2 separate regions of the Homo sapiens genome follow, and region 2 is linked to region 1. Evidence: fine-mapped expression QTL. Tissue or cell type: whole blood. Region 1 holds a variant in brackets; the other region holds the start of a gene. All regions are shown on one strand. Distances are between the middles of the regions.

What was found.
Region 2: it holds the start of MORC2-AS1, and the variant in region 1 is fine-mapped to the expression of MORC2-AS1 in whole blood (INTERVAL, PIP above 0.99). The same link has a PIP of 0.9 or more in CD4 T cells.

The regions. Positions count from the first base shown.
Region 1 is chr22:30,998,120-31,001,031 of GRCh38, reverse strand. No RefSeq gene overlaps it. Among named protein-coding and RNA genes, the nearest start is that of TUG1, 30 kb to the right of the region's middle. The variant G/C (reference allele first, on the strand shown) is at 1,425.
Region 2 is chr22:30,920,902-30,923,813 of GRCh38, reverse strand. It overlaps MORC2-AS1 (MORC2 antisense RNA 1), which reads right to left and starts at 1,506. Exons shown (of 2, transcript NR_026920.1): 1 at 1,299-1,506. It overlaps LOC107985544 (a long non-coding RNA gene), which reads left to right and starts at 2,035. Exons shown (of 3, transcript NR_146603.1): 1 at 2,035-2,226.

The sequences.
Region 1 (2,912 bases):
GAGATCGAGACCATCCTGGCAATGGTGAAACCTCGTCTCTACTAAAAATACAAAAAATTAGCTGGGCGTGGTGGCGGGCGCCTGTAGTCCCAGCTACTCGGGAGGCTGAGGCAGGAGAATGGCGTGAACCCGGGAGGCGGAGCTTTCAGTGAGCCGAATCGCACCACTACACTCCAGCCTGGATAACAGAGCGAGACTCCATCTCAAAAAAAAAAAAAAAAAAAAAATTTATACAAACTTAAGTGTCTAACTATATGGAACCATTAAAAATAGTGTTTTACGAATATATATGTACTTAGAAAGATATATAAATACAGACATTTTTATAATTAAAAAGTTATAAAGTATGTAATAAATTGTACAAATTCAAATATAAAACTGTATGTGAGTACATAGTCAAAGTAACAGCCAGGCGTGGTGGCTCACACCTGTAATCCCAGCACTTTGGGAGGCCGAGGCGAACAGATCACTTGAGGTCGGGAGTTCGAACCTGATCAACATGGGGAAACCCCGTCTCTACTAAAAATACAAAATTAGCTTGGTGTGGTGGCACATGCCTGTAATCCCAGCTACTTGGAAGGCTGAAGCAGAATCGCTTGAACCCGGGAGGCAGAGGCTGTGGTGAGCTGAGATCACGCCATTGCACTCCAGCCTGGGCAACAAGAGTGAAACTCCATCTCAAAAAAAACAAATAAACAACAACAAAAAAACCCACACAGTAACAGTCTGGGCCAGGCATGCTGGCTCATGCCTGTAATCCCAGCACTTTGGGAAGCCAAGGCAGGTGGATCACCTCAGGTCAGGAGTTCGAGACCAGCCTGGCCAACATGCGGAAACCCCATCTCTACTAAAGATACATAACATTAGCTGGGTGTGGTGATGGGCGCCTGTAATCCCAGCTACTTGGGAGGCTGAGGAAGGAGAATCGCTTGAACCTGGGAGGTAGAGGCTACAGTGAGCCAAGATAGCCAGCCACTGCACTTCAGCCTGGGGAACAGAGTGAGACTCTGTCCCAAAAAACAAACAAACAAACAAAATACAAAGTAGCAGTCTGTCCCGCATCTGTTGAGTGATAGGTTTCCATCTTTCTATAATTTCTGGTCCCCATATAAGGAGTAAAGTAATAATGTCTTATGTGGTCATGAGGTGGTAGCTTCTAAAGTTGTCAGGTCATAATGTAAAATTTATTATTATTAAAAATTGCCTCAAATAGTTCATGTTTCATAAAATTCAGTATGTGCAGTCTTAACACATATTGTACCTTCCTTAGTAAGTCCAACTAATTTTCCTACATCAGGAAATACATTTTTTTTTGTTTAGTATCAGTTTGCATTTAGGGGTCAGGTTGAAATATATATACTCATACGTACATATACCTATACATAAACACATATGTATATCTCTATCTCTTTGTCTATGTCTGT[G/C]TCTCTCTCTCTCTCTCTCTTTTTTTTAATTCCCAGCCCTTTGAATTGAAGTTGGGTAATTTAAACTGAACTATTTTCCCCCATAAAAATGAGAATGTATTTTTCTGCAACTTGCTTTTTAAAGTATTTTTCCATGTTCCTTCACATAAATCTACATTACTCTTTTCAACAGCAACACAGTATTTTATGGGGGTGCCATAATATAACTATTCCATTCTCTTATTGATAGACATTTCAGTTGTTTGACTTTTTTTGTTATTATAAATGATGTCAGCAATATCCTTTTACGTATATTTGGCTTTCTTTTATGAAAATAACTTTATGGTTTAAAAATACAAGCCAGGCCGGTGGCTCAGGCCTGTAGTCCCAACTACTCAGGAGGCTGAGGCAGAAGGATCTCTTAAGCCCTTGAGCCCAGGAGTTGGAGGCTGCAAAGAACTATGATGGTGTCACTGTACTCTAGCCTGAGCGAAAGACTGAGATGCCGTCTGAAAAAAAGTCATTGATAGGTTCAAGAAACCAAGGGGCTAATCTGATTAGGTCTGCCAAACTTAACCTGCCCTGCTTGCTGCTTTTGGTCACTCGCTTGTTTTTTGCTTTTTTTGTGGTGGTGGTCATTTTAGACAGGGTCTCGCTCTGTCGCCCAGGCTGGAGTGTGGTGGCCCAATCAGGGCTCACTGCAGCCTCAACCTACTGGGCTCAAGTGATCCTCCTGCCTCAGCCCCCAAGTAGTTGGGATTATAGGCATGCACCAACATGCCTGGCTAATTTTTTGTATTTTTAGTAGAGATGGGTTTCGCCATGTTGCCCAGGGTGGTCTCGAACTCCTGGATTCAAGGGATCCACTCAGCACCTCAGCCTCTGGAAGTGCTGGGACTATAGGCGTGAGCCACTGTGCCCGGCTGTCTATTATTATTATTATTTTACCCAGGTAGCTAAAAGTCACACTGCTTAACACAGTAACGACCTTCACTGACTTCCTTACAGATAACATTTCTGAAGTATATGTTGCCATGGTAATTAATGATTGCTTAGGTTGCTTTTCAGGAGCTTGGGGACAGCTCCTGTCCAGTTCAAACTGGTTGAGACCACTAACCCTTCAACTGGGCATGTGCAAATGCCCCTGAGGTAGCCTTCTGGAATTACAGGGAGAAAAACTCTATCCTCTGATGATGCTAACGCAGCCATTTTCTGAACATGCATCCTATAAAAAGCCATGACCCCAACTACATTTGCACAGATCACCAATTCATTTTTCCTCAATGTCAATCATCTCTTCCTACGCCTTAGACCTCTCCGCTTCTCTAATCCATAAACATTCCTAAACCTTATTTTCAGGGAGGCCGACTTGAGAGCTGTTCTCCCACCTTCTTGCTGGGCTGCCCTGTGAATAAACCTTTTCTGTTTTGCAAAATCTGGTCACAGTGACTGGTTTACTGCACATGGGCAGAACGAACCTGGTAGGTATCAACTGCTAATTTAAGGAAA
Region 2 (2,912 bases), 77 kb after region 1:
GGGATTACAGGCATGAGCCACTGCACCCGGCCAGTCACCATTTTCATCCGGTAACTTGCAATGCACCAGGCCTTACCAGGGCCACTGTTGGGTTCAGCGGACATTTCCTTCTTCAAGCTGGCAAGGCCTCAGACAAGTCACTGCCCATTTTGGCTCCTGTTCCTCCTCTAAAATAACGGAGTTGGGTGATGGCAGAGGCTTTCCAGCTTATTCAGCCTCAGGAGTACCTAAAATTTATCCAGAAGCCCATATGGAAAGCCAGGAGTCCTGGAGCTGCTCTGGTTGAAGCTAGGATGGGGGCCCAGAGCTCCCTGCTGTTCTTGACCCCCAAATCTTTGCTTCCAAGATTCACTGGCCCCTACCTGCTACCTGTAGGCCTTCACCTGCTTACTTGTGTCCGATGTAGGGATTATGGGCTTACTCAGCAGCCATCCTCATGGCCTAAACATTTGGCCAATTTCAGTGTCCCCGAAGGGTGAAGGAGGTCTGGGCTTCCATGGGGCCTGAACTGCAGGTACCTTCAGCACTTCCTGGGGTTCTGGACATGTCAACAGCTGCCCACCAAGGCCTGGAAGATAAGGAGGGCTCACACCACTAGTGCAAACTTGGATCAATGAGAAGGGAAGGATGCGACAGACGTATCCCTCCTCTTTTCTTGTCCCCTCTGGATTCTGTTGAGATGCTTCCAGGGATTCTCCGAGGCCCCTTCCTGCTCCAGTAACTGCAGGTTACTGGGGAAGCTGTGGCCAGCTCTAATCCCCTACTTTTTTTTTTTTTTTTTTTTGAGACAGTCTCGCTCTGTAGCCCAGGCTGGAGTGCAGTGGCGCCATCTTGCCTCATTGCAACCTCTGCCTCCAGGGTTCAAGCGATTCTCCTGCCTCAGCCTCTCTAGTAGCTGGAATTACAGGCGCGCGCCACCACGCCCGGCTAATTTTCGTATTTTTAGTAGAGATGGGGTTTCGCCATGTTGGCCAGGCTGGTCTAGAACTCCCAGTCTCGAGAGATCCATCTGCCTCAGCCTCCCAAAGGGCTGGGATTACAGACGTGAGCCACAGCGCCCGGCCTAATCCCCTACTTTGATTTACTGTCCCTCCCCACATCATTTCTTCCCTTATTGAAAGCTCTGGGTCCTCCCCAATGCCCCACCATGTAAACCAATCTGTCCTGCTGGGTTTGGGGCACCGCGGTGGGCAGGGGAGAACCCGTTTGTCAGAAGGTTCAGAGTTTCTGAGTTCCTCATGCTTAATCATCAGCGGCCACAGCACAACAGTGGCCGAGGGTGGGTTGTAAATTCTCACCTGGCCTAGAGGACGCAGCCACGACCCCAGCGCTTGGCCATCTCTGTAGAGGATTCGCGGGTGGACCATGCTTAGTCTAACAGGGTATGGTTATTAACGCCCGTTATGAACGGTTCATAACCAGCCAACGGTTATGAACTGTGGAGGGCTTCCGCAATCCCGCCACACGCTCGAGGCGGAAGCGACAAGACGCCTGCGTGGTTTTGCTGGCGCGCCGCACGTGCCCGTACCGTGACCTGCGCATGCGCTTTGGAAGCCTCGCGAGCTTCCTGCGGCACTCAGGGTTTGGTGCAGGTGCCTGTGGCCTTTGGGGGTTTCCTCGCGTCTTTTAGGTAGATGCTTCCAGGGATTCTCCGAGGCCTCTTCCTACTCCAGTAACTGCAGGTTTCTGGGGAAGCCGTGGCCAGCTCTAATCCCCTACTTTTTTTTTTTTTTTTTTTTTGAGACAGTTTCGCTCTGTCGCCCAGGCTGGAGTGCAGTGGCGCCATCTCGCCTCACTGCAACCTCCGCCTCCAGGGTTCAAGCGATTCTCCTGCCTCAGCGTCTCTAGTAGCTCCTTACAGGGAGAGCAATGGCCCACTCACACCCGAAACAGAGAAGCGAGGATTTTTTTTTTTTCCTGCAAGCTGCTGCGCATTAATTAAGTCAAAGTGCAGAAGAAATCTTTTCTACCCCGGCTTTCCAACTTTCCGGGGGTCATTAGGGAAAAACATTCGTTGAACAGATGTCCTTAGGGTCGGCGCTTTTATCTCTGAAAGGAAGAACACTTGGAAAGGAAGCTGCGTGTTTTTCCTCTTGCCCGGAAGAGCCAGCCTGTATGTCTCCCTTTTGACCCGAGGCCAAGCGCCTGAAGCCTCTTGGACTTAGTTAACATTAGTCCGTTTTCTATGCGTTTGTCCTTGGCTTGGTTTATGGTGTTTGTTGAAAGGTAAATGTTTTAAAGTTTTGGGGATTCCTATCATGCTTAGGGAAATCAATCCCCTTCTCTCTTCTCCCCTTCCCCCGATATTCTCTTACATTTTGTTGCAATGTTTATTATTTATTTTTTACTAGACAACCTATAGTCCTTATGGAATATATTTTAGTATAAGCTGTAAGGCAAGAGTCAAGCGTCTCCCGCCCCCAGGTGGAAATTAACTTATTCCAGCCCCACTTATTAAATGAGCCTCTTACTAAATGAGCCAACAGGTGTGGACCTGTTGAGTTTGAGATCCCGCTTAGACGCCAGTGGAGACATCTGTGGTCAGTTGCACAAGTGAGTCTGATGTGAGGGGTGAGGTTCTGGCTGAAACTATAATTTTGGGCGTCATCAGCATCTAAATAGATCAGTCTCCCTCACTTGTTAAAAAATGCTTTTCCAGTCTTAGAATGTATTCTCTCACATGAAATATTTAATCGCATTATCCAGTTCGTTCCCATCCCTGCCTAAAAGAAAGTGTTCCATTGGGATTTAAATTATAATTGCATTAAATTTAAATGGAAGTTTTGGGAGCATTGACATTTTTGTGATATTAATCCTCCCCCAGAGGATAAAAAATGGCTTTCCATTTACTCAAGACTTCTTTTAGGTCCTCCAATAAGATTTTATAAATTCTTTATACGGGTTCTATAACT